4 linked regions of the Homo sapiens genome follow. The protein of the gene in region 1 purifies or fractionates together with the protein of each later gene. This does not show direct contact. Each region holds a gene or a part of one and is shown in the gene's direction. Other genes may lie near its edges.

Region 1 (4,370 bases):
GGATGCAGGATATTTGAGAGCAGCTTCCTGAAGCTCCCCCAAGCCCCAGTAGAGTGTTCACCTGCTGTGATACTGAGCAAGCAGGGCCTTGGCAAATATGAGAAGCCTATTGTGCTATGCTAATGCTAATGCTCCATTTAAGGGAATTTTTTTCAAAATGGTTCTTGAATCAAAATTTGCTTCACTGAGGCCACATCCTCTTCAAGGAAAAATAGAGCCCACACATTGGTGAAATAGATCGGCTTCTAGCTTTCCAGTATGGTGGTGAGCTCATTTGCTGTTGTAGTCTTTTTGTCATTATTCTGTAGGCATCAGGCTCCAGGATTCTTATATTCTGTTTTATAATGCCCACATTTCCTTCTGTCTATACTGAGCATCTTTAAAATATTAAGAAATGTTTCATTCAGTCATCCTTTCAAATATTTGAATGCCTATTACAGTATTCCAGATGCTGGAGAGCTTACATTCCTGTGAGAGATACATACAGTAAGCGTTATAATTTCAGAGGGTGAAGAAAATAAAGCAACCTGTGAGGGTGGAGAGTAACTGTTTGGATGGCAAATGTTTGAGATGAGCGTCCAGGAAAGACAACTCAGAGATAGCAATCACCGAGAGACCTGAAACATGAGTTGGATCAGCCTTTGGAAGATTTACTGAAAGAGTGCTCCAGGCAACGGGAACAGCAAGTATAACACTTGCTATTTTAAAAACAAGGAGGAGGCTGGGCACTGCGGCTCATGCCTGTAGTCCCAGCTACTCATGAGCCTGATGCTGGAGGATCTCTTGAGCCCAGGAGCTTGAGGCTGCAGTGAGCTGCGATTGTGCCATTGTACTCCAGCCTGCGCAACAGAGTGAGACTCTGTCTCAAAAATAAATAAATAAATAAACAAAAACAAGGGACAGTGGGTTAGAGCATGGTGACTTAGAGGACAGCAGAAGAGGTAGAGGAGGTGCGAGGTGTAAATGAGGGAAGCCCAGGGGAGATTTCTATTCCACCTGCTGAAGAAGGGATTATGTCCTGAGGATAATGAGAAGCTATGGAGAGGTTGGAGCAAAGGAGAGACATGAAAACACTTTACTTTTTAAAAAAATCACCCTTGGTTGGCATGTGGAGGAGAACAGACTAATGAGACATGACACTAATCAGGATGCTGTTAGAGCAGAAGAGGCAACAGGGGACCAGGGTACAGGTGACAGAAGCACTGAGGTGTGGTTGGTGTCAGGATGTATTTTAAACAGGACTTGCTGATGGGTTGAGTCAGTGAAAAGAAAGGAATCACAAATCTCCAAAAATGACCCAACTAAGTAGGTACAAGGTTATATCTGAGATAGGCAAACAGGAGGAAGAGTTGGCCATGTGTTTGGGAGGTGGGAGAAGAACAGTGGAAGTCACTATTCTGTTTCAGTCATGTGGAGTTTGCAATACCTTTAGTTATTCAATTAGAAATGTGAATTAGGCAGTTTGTTGTACAAATCTGAGGTCTGAGAAAACTTGGGGTTGGAGAGCAAATTTCATTCAACAATTATTTATTAAATGTACAGTAGCATTTTCCTGGAGAGGGAGACGATGCTCTCAATTTCCTGTTTGTTTCCAAGGACTATGCAGACTCTTCAAGAATGTAAAACTTGTAGGGTAGAGCATTCTGTTAAAATTTTGGAAGGTTTGCCAAATGCATACAAATGTTAGCTAGATGGATATAGATATTGGAGAAGAAAGTTAACAGGAGGGATGTTCATAACTATCTTTGAGGGCAATAAACAGCTATCTGGGAAGTGATCTAAATGGAAACTGTAATACTTCCATTTGGGAAAAGCAGGTAACCCTGAATACACCTTGTGCTCAGGTGTTTTGTGTTTCTTTCTTTTTTTTTTTTTTTTTTTTTGAGACAGACTCTCACTCTGTTGCCCAGGCTGGAGTGCAGTGGCATGATCTCGGCTCACTGCAACCCCTACCTCCTAGGTTCAAGCAATTCTCCTTCCTCAGCCTCCCAAGTAGATGAGACTGCAGGTGCCTGCCACCACACTTGACTAATTTTTGTATTTTTAGGAGAGGTGGGGTTTCACCATGTTGGCCAGGCTGGTCTCGAGCTCCTGACCTCAAATGATCCACCCACCTTGGCCTCCCAAAGTGCTTGGATTACAGGCATGAGCCACCGCGCCTGGCCTGTGCTTCATTTTTAATGAGTAAGAGGTATTCAATAAATTGGGAATGGCATTCCATAGTAGCTCCTGAAAAGGAATACATTCTTCCTGCTGTTTCTGTTATTTTATGAGGGTTTCTATGCTTTTTTAGAAAAATTTTTGGTGGTAATGGGGGTGTGCAAAGGAGTTTATGTTGCTTTTGAACTTTTCTAGATTTTTTCTTTTCCAGTTGCTGTTGTAAAGTGAGTTCCTTTTCTTCTGTAAAAACCACAACAACCAAATGTGAAAAAAGCAAAAAGCATGGTTCCTTTTTCTGGACTTCAGGTGCATTGTGCAAGTATTGTGTAACTAACTCCCTTTAGAGTCCAGAGAAGGTCTGCCACCAGGTAGTGTTTGGCTTGGGAGACCTGAGGCTTTTTATCTCCGCCAGTTACTACCTGTTTGGCCTTGGAATCGTTACTTTACATCTCAGGGCCTCAGTTTCCCACATTTATCCAAGGAGTGGTGCATTATGTTTCCTTTGGCTTTTATATTTTATGACACAGTTGTTCTTAGGAAGCTGGACACACTTAGGAAAATATATCTATAAATTTACCTTTGGCTTTTATATTTTATGACACAGTTGTTCTTAGGAAGCTGGACACACTTAGGAAAATATATCTATAAATTTAAAATGTAGATGCTTGTTATCCTTTCTTATCTCACTCTTTTACTTCCAATGTCCCTCTTTCACCTAAATAGCTATTCCTTCCAGTATGCTTTTAGAAATGAGAAAGATAATATATTGAAGATTAAGGATGTTACATGACTCTTGTAAAAATTAGAAGCCCAACTAGCATGCACTGTTTTATTTCTCTGTAGAATATATTTGCATGTGTGTGCTGCATGATTGATTAGGGCATTTTATTCTAAGCATTTACTTCTAAAGGCAATGGCAAAATTTTTCTTCCTCTCATATTGAGATATTTAGGCTTGGTCAATCTGTAGTAAGGATTTTAAAACAGTGTACAAGAAAGCCCCGAATTTTTTGACATTTTTAACATGTGATTTCCACAGGGGGAGAATTTGGAAGACGGCATGTTACAATATGACATTTTATTGTTTGAGAGATTAAGTGCTAAGACTGACAATCCAGAGGAGAAACAATATAGAGAAATGATAGTGAGTAGACTTAAAGTGAGATTTTCAGACACCTTTTAGACCATTGGACATATCCAAATAAACATTGATTTCTATTAGCTGTATGGATTTTACAAACTAATATAAAGTTATTTTAAAGTTTTGTAACAAAAGCATTTTCCAAGTTTATAGAATTTGGTTGTCATGTTCTAGTTCTCTATATAAAATACCTTGCCAGGCTCAGCAAAAGTCGTATTTGGATTTGCTACCATCCCTTAATGAGGACATAGGTCATTATTAAAACTATCAGACATGCCTGAATACAAGATGACCTAAGTGGAAGCCATGTGGTCTTTTATGACCCAGCTTCAAAAGTCAAATATAATGTCATTTCTGCCATCCTCTATTTGTCAAAGCAGTTACAAATACCCAGATTCAAGACCTTACCTCTCAATGGGAGCAGTGCCAAAGAAGTTGTGGCTTTTTTGTAAAACCACCATAATAAGCCATGTCATATCCATAGAATGAAACAACATGATGCTGGAAAAGAAATTATTAAACTCTATATACAGTTATGGAAAGATACACTGTAAAATGAAAAAACAATGAGATGAAGAATAGTTTATAAGTCATACTCTCTTTTGTAAGAATGATGGAATAAATGAGAATATGTATATGTGTATATTACCTGTGCTACACTCAAGGAATACTTAAAGGATACATAATAATAACATAAGTGGAAATCTCTGAAGTAAGACTTGGCGAATGGGCATAAGGGTTGGAGTAACAATTCTGAGCATATGCCTTTTTACATGATTTTCATTTTTGAGCCATGCCAATATATTACTAATAAAAATTTAATATGTAATAAATACATTAAACTTTGGCTACATTATATTATTGGTATTTGTGAAGTTTGTCTTGGATTAGTACCTCAAACATGTTAACAAAGCCATTTTTTTAGGCTGTGTCCCCACATCTCTGTATAGGTCCTTGCAGTTGCATATGTTATTTCATCCTGCTTGATTACTCCAGCCTATAAAGATATTAATAGGAAGAATCCTGTTTTGAGATGGAAGATCTATTACTATCTATACACTTTTCCCTAA
Region 2 (4,370 bases), on another chromosome or scaffold:
CAGGAGAATTGCCTGAACCCGGGAGGCGGAGGTTGCAGTGAGCCGAGATTGCACCATTGCACTCCAGCCTGGGTGACAAGAGTGAAACTTCATCTCAAAAAAAATTATAAAGAAATAATATCAGTGACTAGTTAGTATGTTTCTGTAGGGCTTAGTACAGACATGTATTAATTCTTCTAACAACTTCTTGAGGTTAGTACCTTTACTCCTTCTTATCGTTAAGAAACCTGATGCTTAGGGATGGGCACAGTGGCTCACGCCTGTAATCCCAGCACTTTGGGAGGCCAAGGCGGCAGGACTGCTTGAGCACAGGAGTTCAAGACCAGCCTGGGCAATATGGTGAAACCCCGTCTCTACCAAAAATATAAAAAATTAGGCATGATGGCACATGTCTGTGGCTCCATTTGTTAGGGAGGAGGGTGAGGTAGGAGGATTGTTTGAGTCAGGGAGGCAGAGGTTGCAGTGAGCCGAGATCGCACCACTGCACTCTGGTCTGGGTAACAGAGTAAAACCCTGTCTCACACAAACAAAAAAAAGATATAAAAGAAACCTGATGCTTAGAAAGGTAAAAAGGGCCAGGTGTGGTGGCTCATGCCTGTAATCCCAGCACTTTGGGAGGCCAACATTGCTCAAGTCCCAGAGTTCGAGGCTGTGATGAGCTATGATCACACCACTGCACTCCAACCTGTGTAACAGAGCAAGACCCTGTCTCAAAAAAAAGACTTGGACTGGTTCAGGTCAAGTACCCACTCCACAGCTAGAGGGATGGGATCAGCCTCTCCCAAACCACAGGAGTGACTGCCGGGGAAGAGTGATTCCTCGAGGGTAAATTGAGATGTTACTATCAAAAGAAGAGAGATTGAGATTGCATTTGGCTAACGGTTTAAATAAAGAGGGTTTATTTTCTCAAGTAAAAGAAAGTCTAGAGGTAATTTCTAGCATTGGGTCAGCTACGCAACTGTGTCATTAGAGACCAGCCTCTTTGTAGCTTTGCATTCTAGTATCGTTAGTGTTTTGGCTTTTATTCTAATGCTTAGTACGTCATGGTCTCACATAGCTGCCATCACTTCAGAAATCGAGTCTGAGTTCAAGGCAGAAAGAGAGAGACTAAAAGCCATGTTAGCTGTGTTTGTCCCTTGGTATTAAGAAAACAGAAGCCTTCCCAGAAGTGCCCCCAGTAGACCTCTCAAGGGTCAGAATTGACTGGGTAACACAATCAACTGCAGCAGCAAAGGAGGCCGAGAAAGCTTCTGGATTTCCAACCTCTGGTGGGAGGCCATGAGGTAAAGAGGGTAGGAATGAATTTGTTTTGGGCCAACCAACCTGTTCTGTTTTCCACAAGGTTGAAGGTGACAACTGGTATCTACTGCAAATGTCAAACTAAGACTTTTGGCCAGGTGCGGTCGCTCACACCTGTAATCCCAGCACTTTGGGAGGCCAAGGCGGGTGGATCATGAGGTCAGGAGTTTGAGACCAGCCTGATCAACATGGTGAAACCCCGTCTCTACTAAAAATACAAAAATTAGCCGGGCATGGTGGTGCATAATCCCAGCTACTCGGGGCTGAGGCAGGAGAATCGCTTGAACCCAGGAGGCGGAGTTTGAAGTGAGCCAAGATCACGCCACTGCACTCTACCCTGGGCAGCAGAGCGAGACTCTGTCTCAAAAAAACGAAACAAAAAACCTAAGACTTCTATGCGTAGTTTGCGTTCTTTATATTGTGTCCATTTAAATGACAACATCGTGACTCTTAATTGGGACCTAGGAATTTACTTAACCAGTCTCTTGGTATGAAGTCTCTAGATGATTTCTAGCTCTCAGTGTTTTCTTCTGCTGTCACCAATCCTAGGACAGAAACTGGAGGTCTTAAGTGGAATTAGTGAGGGCCACATCAACATAGGATCCCAGACTCTGAATCTGCCTCCATGCATGTAAGAGCCTCATTGTCAGGTCTCTTTTTTATTTCCAGATTTTGGGGAATGTCTCAGAATTCCAAAGAGTGGTTGAAGTGCTCCAGGACAGCGTGGACTTTGATATTGATGTGAACGCCTCTGTGTTTGAAACAAACATTCGAGGTAAGGGCTGCTCTCTAGGACCTTTAAAAGAAAAAAGAGTGTGAAGTTGCCTCTGTAAACCAAGAAGTGGTAAATAGGATTTTAAGGACTGACCATGCCAGGACCCTTGGCCAAAACCTCTGACCGACAGAGCTCTTCTTCCCTCCTGGAGGGTGAGGTGGGGAAGTCTCAGGATTTCCCCATCAGTTTCAGATATGAAAGTGAGCAGGAGACTAAGAGACTGGAAAGAAATACACCAGATTACTCACCTCTTTAATATGTATTTGATACTAGGCATACAGCTATGAACAAGAAAGATATGATCCTTGCCTTCTTGGAACTTATTGTCTGTCCAATCCAATTTTCTGCAGTGATGGAAATGTCTTATAGCTGTGTTTTGTCCAGTATGGTAGCCACGAACCACATGAGCTATTGAGCATTTGAAATGTATCTACTACAACTATGGAATTGAATTTTTAATTTCATTTAATTTTAATGATATTAAATTTAAGTAGTCACATGTAGTTAGTGATTATTGTATTGGACAGTGCAAATCTACAGCATTAATCTTCCAAACTTGGCAGCCCATAGGAACCACTCCCAAGTGGTTAAAAAATTCAGATGTTGAGACTCCACCCTAAACCTAATGAATTGGAATCTCTGTGTTGGGTCCTAGAATCAGTATTTTTAGCAGACTTCCAGTGATTCTTGTGAAGCCAGCACAGCCCTTATTTGCATCGAACCTCTAGACCACTTAACAGCTGTCACCTCTGGATGGCAGAGTTCTATTTTTCCCCATTATTTTGTATGTTTTCTGCAATGAAACTTATATTCCAGACATATGATCCATAAAAGATTAAAAAAGAGAAGAGAGCAGAGGGACAACATGGTCTAAAATCCTGGTTTAGGAATCCGGCCTGAGTTTGAGGCTGTACTTGCTGCTATGTCTCCCAGCTTCTGAGCCCAGTTTGTCATCTGTAAATGAAGGTCATTCTTATACCTTTATTTCTGATAGGAATATAAGTGATACCAGCTTTCTTTTGGTTGACATTTTCCCATGTATCTTTTTCTATCCTTTCCATCTTTCTGTAGTTTTATGATTAGATACATCTTTTGCAAATAGTGTATTATATTTTGTTTATCCATTCTGACAATCTTTAACTGGCACATTTAATCCATTTACATTTACTGTAATTACTGATATATTTGCACTCATTTCTACAGTATTGTGCTCTCTGTGCCGTCTTCTTTTTTTTTTTTTTTTTTTTTTTTTTGAGGCGGAGTCTCACTCTGTCGCCCAGGCGGGAGTGTAGTGGTGCAATCTTGGCTTACTGCAACCTCTGCCTCCCGGGTTCAGGCGATTCTCCTGTCTCAGCCTCCTATGTAGCTGGGATTGCAGGTGCCTGCCACCGTGCCCTGCTAATTTTTGTATTTTTAGTAGAGATGGGGTTTCACCATGTTGGCCAGGCTAGTCTCGAACTCCTGACCTCAGGTGATCCGCCCCCCATCAGCCTCCCAAAGTGCTGGGATTATAGGTGTGAGCCACTGCACCTGGCCCTGTGCCATCTTCTTTATGTTCCTTTATTCTGTCCTTTTTCATGCCTTCTTTAGATTGTTTTCCCCCCATTCCATTTTCCTCTTACTAATATGGAAATTATGCACAATATCTAGCTTTTTACATAGTTTTCCAAGCAAATTTAACAAACATAACTTATCAAAGTCTAAATTTAATGAAAATCTTTGTTCTCCTCCTGAATAATGCAAAACCTGACTTAGAGAACATCCTGACCTATATGCTACAGTTATATATTTTAGTTATTTGTTTTAAACCTTCCATACATTATAATTTTTGTTCTATATTGTTGAAGTTTTGCATTTACACATAAATTTACCACTTTTTTTGTTGTTGTTGGTTTGAAATAGAGTCTCACTCTGCCACCCAGGCTGGAGTGCAGTGGCGCGATCTTGGCTCACCTCCACCTCCTGGGTTTAAACGATTCTCCTGCCTCAGCCTCCAGAGTAGCTGGGATTACAGTTGTGCACCACCACACCAGGCTAATTTTTGTATTTTTAGTAGAGATGGTGTTTCACCACATTGGCCAGGCTGGTCTCAAACTCATGATCTTGAGTGATCCACCTGCTTTGGCTTCCCAAAGTGCTGGAATTACAGGTTTAGCCACTGTGCCTGGCCTATTTACCACTTTTTTGACTATTTTTTCTTTTCGTGTCTCAGACCTTTTCTCTAAAGTATTTCCTTTAGAATTTCCTTTAATGCAGGTGTGTGCTTCATAAACATTCCCAGCTTTTGTTTATATGA
Region 3 (4,370 bases), on another chromosome or scaffold:
TGAAGAAACAGAACAGGGCCAGGTACGGTGGCTCATGCCTGTAATCCCAGCACTTTGGGAGGCCAAGGCAGGTGGATCACTTGAGCCCGGGAGTTCAAGACCAGCCTGGGTGACATGGTGAAACCCTGTCTGTACAAAAAAAAATACAAAAATAGCCGGACATGGTGGCACACACCTGTAGTCCCAGATACTCCAGAGGCTGAGGTAGGAGGATCACTTGAGCCTGATAAGTGGAGGCTGTAGTGAGCCAAGATTGTGCCACTGCACTCTAGCCTGGAGCTTGGGTGACAGAGCAAGACCCTGTCTCAAAAAAAAAAAAAAAAGAAAAGAAACAGAACAGTAGGATCCACAGTTAGGGAGGCTTTAGGATCAAGGGAGATAAAGTATAAGACAGCAATTTGGAAACTATAACTTACTGCATATGTGTAAGGAGAATTCTAGAAAGAAGATGGTTGAGATCACAACCCTGGGGAACAACTTCAGTTAGAGAGTAGGAATGAAAAAGAGATCCCCAAAAGGCATTCAGCCCAAGAGACAGATGAGCACCTTCTGCTCTGTGTGCTGTCCTTCCATGCTGGGATTGCAATAAGGAATCTGCACATTCCTTGATCTCAAACAGTTTATAGTTTGCTGTTGTGTTTCACAAAGTATGTTTGTGTGAATCACCTGCATCCAGACAGACTTGTATTAAATACAGATTCCAGGGCCCTACCTCAGGCCTACGGAATCAGAATTTCAGGAAGTGATGCCAAGAGTTTGAATTTTTAGCAAATGACTCATACTCTGCCACACAAGATGATTCGTATTCCCACTACAGTTTGAGAACCACTGGTATGTTGGGTACTGAGCATGTTAACAAATAAGAGTAGGTTTAACAGTTAATCGAAGACTAGACAAGGATTTGTTCATCTCTTTTTATGTTTATGCCATTAAATAAGAGAAGCTGGGCTTGTTAGGTGGGAAATAATAGCACATATTCATAGGCAGACATAAGGAAAATAATCTTAAACTCATGCCATATGGTTTTAGTAATGTTTTGTTTATGAAGGGTCTTACCATTCCTTTCTTGTGGAAGCTTTGAGTTATTTTCACTTTGTTTCTGTTATGGATAATGCCTTTATACTGGCAGTGTACAGTAAAAGGCTAAGATTATGAGCTCTAGAACCATACTGCCTAGGTTTAAATTGCAGCTCCACACTTACTAGCTCTGTAATTTGGGGGAAATTATTTAAGTCATCTGTGCTTCAGTTTTCTCATCTATAATAGAAGTATCATAATAGTGTATAATCTCATTGAGTTGTGAGGATTAAATGGATTAATAATTATAAAGTATTTAAAATGGTACCTGGCACATAGTAAACAATAAATATAGGCTATTTTTATTGTTAATAGTTATCTTTGTGAATCTAGAGTCTTAACTTCTGTTGAACTATTTCTCTAGGATAAATTTTCAGGATGGAATTTCTACATTAAAGAATGAAGACATCTTTATGTCCCTTTGCTATCTATAGTCATTGCTTTTCAAAAGGGTGATATCTGTTTGTGCTATAATAATTTGTAAATGCAAGCTATCAATGGTGTGTGTGTGTGTGTATGTGTTTTGTATGTCTCTTTATATGAATGCATACAAGCATGGCTTAGGTTGTAAGTTTGTAGAAAACTTTGACCTTCTTTTTAAGCCTGCTCTTAAGTCTGTTGTTAAGTTTCATGTTATAGTGCCTCGTTAGATACTATCTCCAGGTAGTATGTTGATAAATGATAGTAAGTTACCTTTGAAAGATTATGTCAAAGAAATATTCTAAATCTGTGTCTTTTTCCTTTTGATAGACTGAAGCCATGGCGATTCTTTTTGCTGTTGTTGCCAGGGGGACCACTATCCTTGCCAAACATGCTTGGTGTGGAGGAAACTTCCTGGAGGTGACAGAGCAGATTCTGGCTAAGATACCTTCTGAAAATAACAAACTAACGTACTCACATGGCAAGTGAGTTCTGTTCTGCATGTGGTAAGGGATGAAAGAAGGGAATTCTGTTACTCTAATCAGAACGGTAGAAAAGTAGAAAACAAGCTTCTAGGTACATAATTTGAATAAGCTGACAGAATAGTAACCTTCACCAACTTAGAAAATATATCTGGTTTTGTTACTTATAAATTTAACTTGTAATTATTTTATTCTATTATTGAAGTGATATTTTATTTTGAAGAAAGATGAAATGTTAAATGTAAAAATGACTTTGCTCTAGAGCTGTGTGATATGTGAAAATAATTCAGATAAGATAGATAATGTTCCTTTGTTCATTCTTTCAGTAAATATTTACTGAGCACTTAACTATTGCCAGGCACTTTGCTTGGTGCTGGGGATATAACAAGATATGTGGTATTTGCCCTCATAAGGGTTATAGTTTAATGAGGGAGAAAGTCAAATCCACGATGTCAAGGGTTGGGGGGATGGGAAGTAGTAGATAGGAGAATGGTATTCCAAGTAGAAGGAACAGCAGGTAGAGAAGTATGGAGGCATGAGATCATAGGGCGGGCATATTTAGGGAACTGCAGACTGTTCTCTGTGACTGGTGCCCAGGATGGTGAAAATAAAGCTAGAGAGATGGGTAGAAGAAAAGTCATGTAGGGCCTTGTAGGCCATATTAAGAGCTTGGACTTTACCTTGTGGGCAGTGGAAAGGCATTGAAGGTTTTCAGCCAGGGTGTGACAGAGTCAGGTTTGTTTTATTTATTTATTTATTTATTTATTTAGAAACAGAGTCTCACTCTGTCACCCAGGCTGGAGTGCAGTGGTGCGATCTTGGCTCACTGCAACCTCCATCTCCCAGGTTCAGATGATTCTCGTGCCTTAGCCTCCTGAGTAGCTGGGATTACAGGCGTGCACCACCATGCCCAGCTAATTTTTGTATTTTTAGTAGAGTTGGGGTTTCACCATGTTGGCCAGGCTTGTCTCAAGCTCCTGACCTCAGGTGATTCGCCTGCCTTGGCCTCCCAAAGCGTTGGGATTACAGGCGTGAGCCACTGCCCCTGGCCCTTCAGTCAGTTTTTGCTTTAGAAAGATCACTCTGGTGGCTTATTAGAGTGGCCATAGTTGGGAAATCTTAGTAATTAGTTTTAAAAAGTGCCTCAACCTTCCCCGTTGGCACTTAAAAATCTTTTCTTACTTAACCCAGCCTTACTTCCTTAGTTCTTATCTCAGAATGAGGTCCTTATTACTTTCTATGGCTAACCCCTTATACAGTTTAAGGTGTACTCTAAGCTACTATGAGAGAGACCCCCAAGATACAGTATTAATTTTAATGAGATAGTCCAGAGATGAGTGGTTTGGGATGTTGGGGTGGCTCTGCCATTTCCAATTCCCTAATTCCCAAAGCAATTAGTGCTTTCCACTTCTGGCCAAGGCAGCTCCTTTGGTGCTTGTTATATCCCAGTGCTTGCCCAGTAATTTTAAAGGCAGGGCCCAGAAGTGGCCTGATATTGTTGAGAAGCTTCCACTTACATCTTACTGTTCACTACACAGTCATGTAGCTAGCATAGCTAGAAGGGAGGCCAGGAATTGTCATCTCTGGCTATGTAGTCGTAGGCTCAACTAAAACTCTGTTACTCTGGAGGAAGTTATAGGATATCAGGGGATGACTTGCAGTCTTCCAGTCTACTCTCCTGGCCACCCAGATATTTCAGTGAACCTTTCTTCCCAAACATAGAATACGCCTCTTCTCTGAGAGAGGTAGCTCCAAAGACCTATCTAGTCACTGTGTTTGGCTCCAAGTCCAGCATGTCTAGGTGGTACACAGTCCTATCCATCAGGCCCTGGTGTGGCTCCTGTGGTCCACTGACCATAAAGTAAAAGATAAGTCATATGTTTTCCCTGCTTTCCCAGCCTAACCCAGTAGACAATGGTGAAATAAGAAAAGGATCATCACAGTGAGAGTTACAAACTCCCATTTGGAAAAGGGAAGAATGAGAAACATGTAGAAGTCATTGCTTTCCAGTAATGATCAAATAATTGCCTCACACAATTTCAAAGACTCCCTATTCTGACCAGGAAGTGGTTAGTGGTTCTGCTTTCTTGGAGGAACTCCCTCACCCTTTTTCCCTGACTCCTGGCTTTGTTCTCCAGGAAGTTTTTCCTTTCTGGCCACATCCAAAATGGTAGTTAGAGAGTATATCATCTTTGGGAATTGTACCCATTTTGTAGTCCTCTTGCTGCCAGCGTAGGTTTGTGGGCCTAGAGGTTAGGGGTTAAATAATCTTAGCTTCTTATGATTTTGGCTTTATACTTTCTCTAAAAATGTATTAGACTTACAGTCTTTGTGTTTCTAGGCAGTTCCTGGGAAAATGTCCAGGGAAAGCACATGTAGTCGTCCTTTTAG
Region 4 (4,370 bases), on another chromosome or scaffold:
CTGTCTCAAAAAAAAAAAAAAAAAAAGGAACTGAAGTGAAGTCAGAATATCTTCTTTTCAGGCCTTAGAGAAAGATCGTTATGAGCATAGTCCCAAATCTGGATTTCTCTGAAGCCAGGTCCTCCCTTGGCTTACCATTCTGTCTTCCACTGATAACTTGAGGCACGTAGCCATTAACTGGACTGCCCAGCTGTTCCTGGCCTAGGGAGGAGCCAGAACCCCCAACCAATAGTAATGAGGATGGTGATGCGAGCCTTGGGTCCTCCCTAACTTGGCTACTGTGTTACAGAAGCAATATCCAAGGCAGTGTCATCTGCAACAATGCTGTGATCGAGAAGGGTGCAGACATCAAGGACTGCTTGATTGGAAGTGGCCAGAGGATTGAAGCCAAAGGTAAACCAGATTACAATCACAGATTCCATTTTTACTTCTCACACCAGCACTGATAATGCCAAAGGCTGGTGAGGATGTGGGAAACAAGCACATACGTACACTGCGGGCGAGAACATAAATTGATAAAGCCATCTTTGGAGAGCAGTTGACATCACTGTCAATTTTTTTTTTTTTTTCGGAGTTTCACTCTTGTTGCCCAGGCTGGTGTGCAATGGTGCAATCTCAGCTCACTGAAACCTCCGCCTCCCGGGTTCAAGCGATTCTTCTGCCTCAGTCTCCTGAGTCGCTGGAATTACAGGCATGTGCCACCACGCCCAGCTAATTTTTTGTATTTTTAGTAGAGATGGCGTTTCTCCATGTTGGTCAGGCTGGTTGCGAACTCCCGACCTCAGGAGAACTGCCCACCTCAGCCTCCCAAAGTGCTGGGATTACAGGCGTAAGCCACCGCACCTGGCATCACTGTCAAATTTTTTTACTTTGACTTAACAGTTTCATTTCTAGAAATTAATCTTATAGATAAGCTTATACATGTATGCACCCTTAATCTCAAAACCTTGAAAACATATCAATAGATCTAATGGCCCAGGTTGGCACCAATACTGTACAGTGATTCTTGAAGCCTAGGCACAGTGGTTCATGCCAATAATCCCAACACTTTGGGAGGCTGAAATGTGAGGATCGCTTGAGCCTAGACAACATAGCAGGAACCCATCTCTACAAAAAAATTAAAAATTAGCCAGGCACAGTGGCACACACGTGTTGTCCCAGCTACTCAAGAGGCTGAGGCAGGAGGATTGCTTGAGCCTGAGAGGTCAAGGCTGCAGTGAGCTGAGATCGCACCACTGCACTCTAGCCTGGGTGACAGAGGGAGACCCTGTCTTAAAAATAATAATAAAAATTAAAATGACTGATTGCTTTTGGTATTATTCCTAAACCTAAAATAAGGTGGGGAGGGGAGTTGCTGAAGGAATTAACCCCACCAACTCTGTAGACGCCACATCATTTCCTTCTTCAGTTTCTTCCCCCTTCCCTTTTTTAAAGTCATATGCCTTCCTTTTGGGCTTTAGAATCAAACAGACCTCAGTTCACATCTCAACTCAACTTAGTGGCTGTGCACCAAGTGAAATTTTTAATCATTAAGCCCTCAGATTTTCCTTTTTTTTTTTTTTTTTTTTAATTTTAATTTTTTGAGACAGAGTCTTGCTCTGTCGCCTAGGCTGGAGTACAGTAGTGCTATCTCAGCTCACTGCAGCCTCCTCCTCCTGGATCCAGGTGGTTCTTGTGCCTCAGCCTCCCGGGCAGCTGAGACTACAGGGGCACACCACCACCCTTGGCTAATTTTTGTGTTTTTAGTAGAGACAGGGTTTTGCAATGTCACCCAGGCTGGTCTTGAACTCCTGGCCTCAAGCAAGCCACCCACCTCACTTTCCCAAAGTGCTGAGATTACAGGTATGAGCCACTGCGCCCAGCCCCAGATTTTCTTAATTAGACAATTGGGACAATAATAGCTACCTTGGAGAATTGTGAGAATTACATATAATTAAATGACAGGTATATGCACTACTCCTTGAGTGTACCAAAAGACTTAGAATTCCTCATACATACCGTGCCATTATACCTCTCCATGCTTTTACATGTGCTCTCTCTAGATTTCCTCTCTTGAAGACTCCGACCAAGTGTTTTCTCCTTTGTAGAACCTTCTCTGCCTCTTCCCATGACTCCCCATAGCAGAACTACACATTCCTTCCACTGTGTCCTTGAGCTTTGCCACACCTTTATTAAAGTATGTTTCACAAGCCATGGCAATTATCCGTGAATCAGCCTTCCCTACTAAGATCCTCAAGGTCAGCTGGGCATGATGGCTCACACCTGTAATCCTAGCACTTTGGGAGGCCGAAGTGGGCGGATCACCTGAGGTCAGGAGTTCGAAACCAGCCTGACCAACATGGTGAAACCCCGTCTCTACTAAAAATACAAAAAATAGCCAAGTGTGGTAGTGCATGCCTGTAATCCCAGCTACCTGGGAGGTTGAGGCAGGAGAATTGCTGGAACCCAGGAGGCGGAGGCTGCAGTGAGCTGAGACTGCACCACTACACTCCAGTCTGGGTGACAGAGCAAGACTCCATCTCAAAAAAAAAAAAAAGATCCTCAAGGTCGATTGTCTCATAACTATATGCATCCCTAGCTCTCAGAACAGGTCCTGATTTATGGTAAATGCTCAGAAGGGGAAAAGAGTGAATGAATGAATGTTGGATCCATGAAACATATTTTGGGGGATTTCAGGGTATAAAGTTAGGGTTCCAAGAAAGGCCTCTGTGCGATGGTTGCAATCATCATGAGATGGGCTTCATAAACTCCTGGGCTTTCTGGCTTTAATTAACACTATGTGTCCACCTTTTAGCAAGGAGACCCTTTAATGGTCCTGCTGAAGGAGGGCTGGCCAGGGAAGTCATCTTGTCTGGGCTCTAAACTGGACAACCCCACCACTTCCTTCTCTCTGTCCTCTGCTGGAAGGACCAGTGCATCCAGCACAGTGGTCAGTGCCCTCCTGCCACAGGAACTCCCTGGCCAGTTGCCTTTTTCCACTATTACTTCTTCTTTTTTTTTTTTTTTTGAGACTGAGCCGTATGGTGAAAGCAAACTCCTAACCATCAGTGCAGCACTCAAGACTTGTTACTATAGGTGACCTAGGCAAACACCAACAACTCACATCCTTACCAGCAAAGAGCTCAATAGATGGCAAAGTCTTCCGTCAGTCTTCCTCACATGAAGGGGTTTCAGGAAAAAACATTCATCCTAAGAAATAATGCAGTCTCAGCCGGATGCGGTGGCTCATGCCTGTAATCCCAGCACTTTGGGAGGCTGAGGCGGGTGGATCCCTGTGGTCAAGAGTTCGAGACCAGCCTGACCAACATGGAGAAACCCCATCTCTACTAAAAATACAAAAAATTAGCCGGGCGTGGTAGTGCATGCCTGTAATCCCAGCTACTTGGAAGGCTGAGGCAGAAGAATTGCCTGAACCTGGAAGGCAGAGGTTGTGGTGAGCTGAGATCACGCCATCACACTCCATCTTGGGCAACAAGAGCGAAACTCCATCTCAAAAAAAAAAAAAAAGACATAATGCAGTCTCCTCTCCAAATTCTAATCATTTTCATGCTCCAGAGTCACCACATCCATAGCAGTCTTTTTCCCCAAAAGTATGGCTCGTAACTCAGTGTAGGCCTCCCTACCCTCTTCTAGCACCAACACGAAAACAAGCCATTTTATAACAACTCTGACTTTTCTCACCCCATCCCAATACTCTCATTGGTTATCTCTGGCAAAAATACTGGCAGCCAAATTTGACCTTCTCAAGCAGTAGAATGGCTACAGCTAACAGTCAAAACCTAAAAAATGGCTGGGTACAGAGGCTGTAGCTCACGCCTGTAATCCCAGCACTTTGGGAGACCAAGGCGAGTGGATCACTTGAGGTCAAGAGTTCGAGACCAGCCCAGCCAACATGGTGAAACCTCATCTCTACTAAAAATACAAAAATTAGCTGTGTGTGATGGCACACACCTGTAATCCCAGCTACTTGGGAGGCTGAGGCAGGAGAATCACTTGAACCTGGGAGGCGGAGGTTGCAGTGAGCAGAGATCATACCACTGCACTCCAGCCTGGGCAACAGAGCAAGACTCCATTCAGAAAAAAAAAAAACAAAAAAAAAAAACACTAACTGCTAAAAGCATGCTTCATCTGAGTCTCTTCTTACAGTCAGTGACAGAACTTGGATCTCTTCCCTATGGCCAGAGTGATCAGTTCTTTGACCATGAAAGTAGACCTGGTATAGGTCAGGCTGTTGATGTATACTTGACACAGGTCAAATCCTCCTGGCCAGCAGGAAGCTTTCCCAGTTTCCCAACAGTGCACCTTTTATTTGTGATGTTTTTCCCTTCTATCCCATTGCTATTTTCCCAACTTATCATCCTCCCTTGTAT

Evidence for each region.
Region 2: the proteins of PIP4P2 (region 1) and EDEM2 purify together in Homo sapiens (co-immunoprecipitation; one large-scale study listed by IntAct). This does not show direct contact.
Region 3: the proteins of PIP4P2 (region 1) and VAMP7 purify together in Homo sapiens (affinity purification with mass spectrometry; one large-scale study listed by BioGRID and IntAct). This does not show direct contact.
Region 4: the proteins of PIP4P2 (region 1) and EIF2B3 purify together in Homo sapiens (affinity purification with mass spectrometry; one large-scale study listed by BioGRID and IntAct). This does not show direct contact.

What each region holds. Positions count from the first base shown.
Region 1 is NC_000008.11:91,030,294-91,034,663, reverse strand, and holds part of PIP4P2 (type 2 phosphatidylinositol 4,5-bisphosphate 4-phosphatase), read left to right. Parts: intron 1-4,370. UniProt on the Homo sapiens protein: Catalyzes the hydrolysis of phosphatidylinositol-4,5-bisphosphate (PtdIns-4,5-P2) to phosphatidylinositol-4-phosphate (PtdIns-4-P).
Region 2 is NC_000020.11:35,140,077-35,144,446, reverse strand, and holds part of EDEM2 (ER degradation-enhancing alpha-mannosidase-like protein 2 isoform 1 precursor), read left to right. Parts: intron 1-1,968; coding exon 1,969-2,074; intron 2,075-4,370. Other genes in the region: MMP24-AS1-EDEM2 (ER degradation-enhancing alpha-mannosidase-like protein 2), read left to right, coding at 1,969-2,074. UniProt on the Homo sapiens protein: Involved in the endoplasmic reticulum-associated degradation (ERAD) pathway that targets misfolded glycoproteins for degradation in an N-glycan-dependent manner.
Region 3 is NC_000023.11:155,887,631-155,892,000, forward strand, and holds part of VAMP7 (vesicle-associated membrane protein 7), read left to right. Parts: intron 1-1,827; 5' UTR 1,828-1,836; coding exon 1,837-1,982; exon of another isoform or gene 1,983-1,998; coding exon of another isoform or gene 1,999-2,003; intron 2,004-4,370. UniProt on the Homo sapiens protein: Involved in the targeting and/or fusion of transport vesicles to their target membrane during transport of proteins from the early endosome to the lysosome. Required for heterotypic fusion of late endosomes with lysosomes and homotypic lysosomal fusion.
Region 4 is NC_000001.11:44,853,727-44,858,096, reverse strand, and holds part of EIF2B3 (translation initiation factor eIF2B subunit gamma), read left to right. Parts: intron 1-289; coding exon 290-393; intron 394-4,370. UniProt on the Homo sapiens protein: Acts as a component of the translation initiation factor 2B (eIF2B) complex, which catalyzes the exchange of GDP for GTP on the eukaryotic initiation factor 2 (eIF2) complex gamma subunit.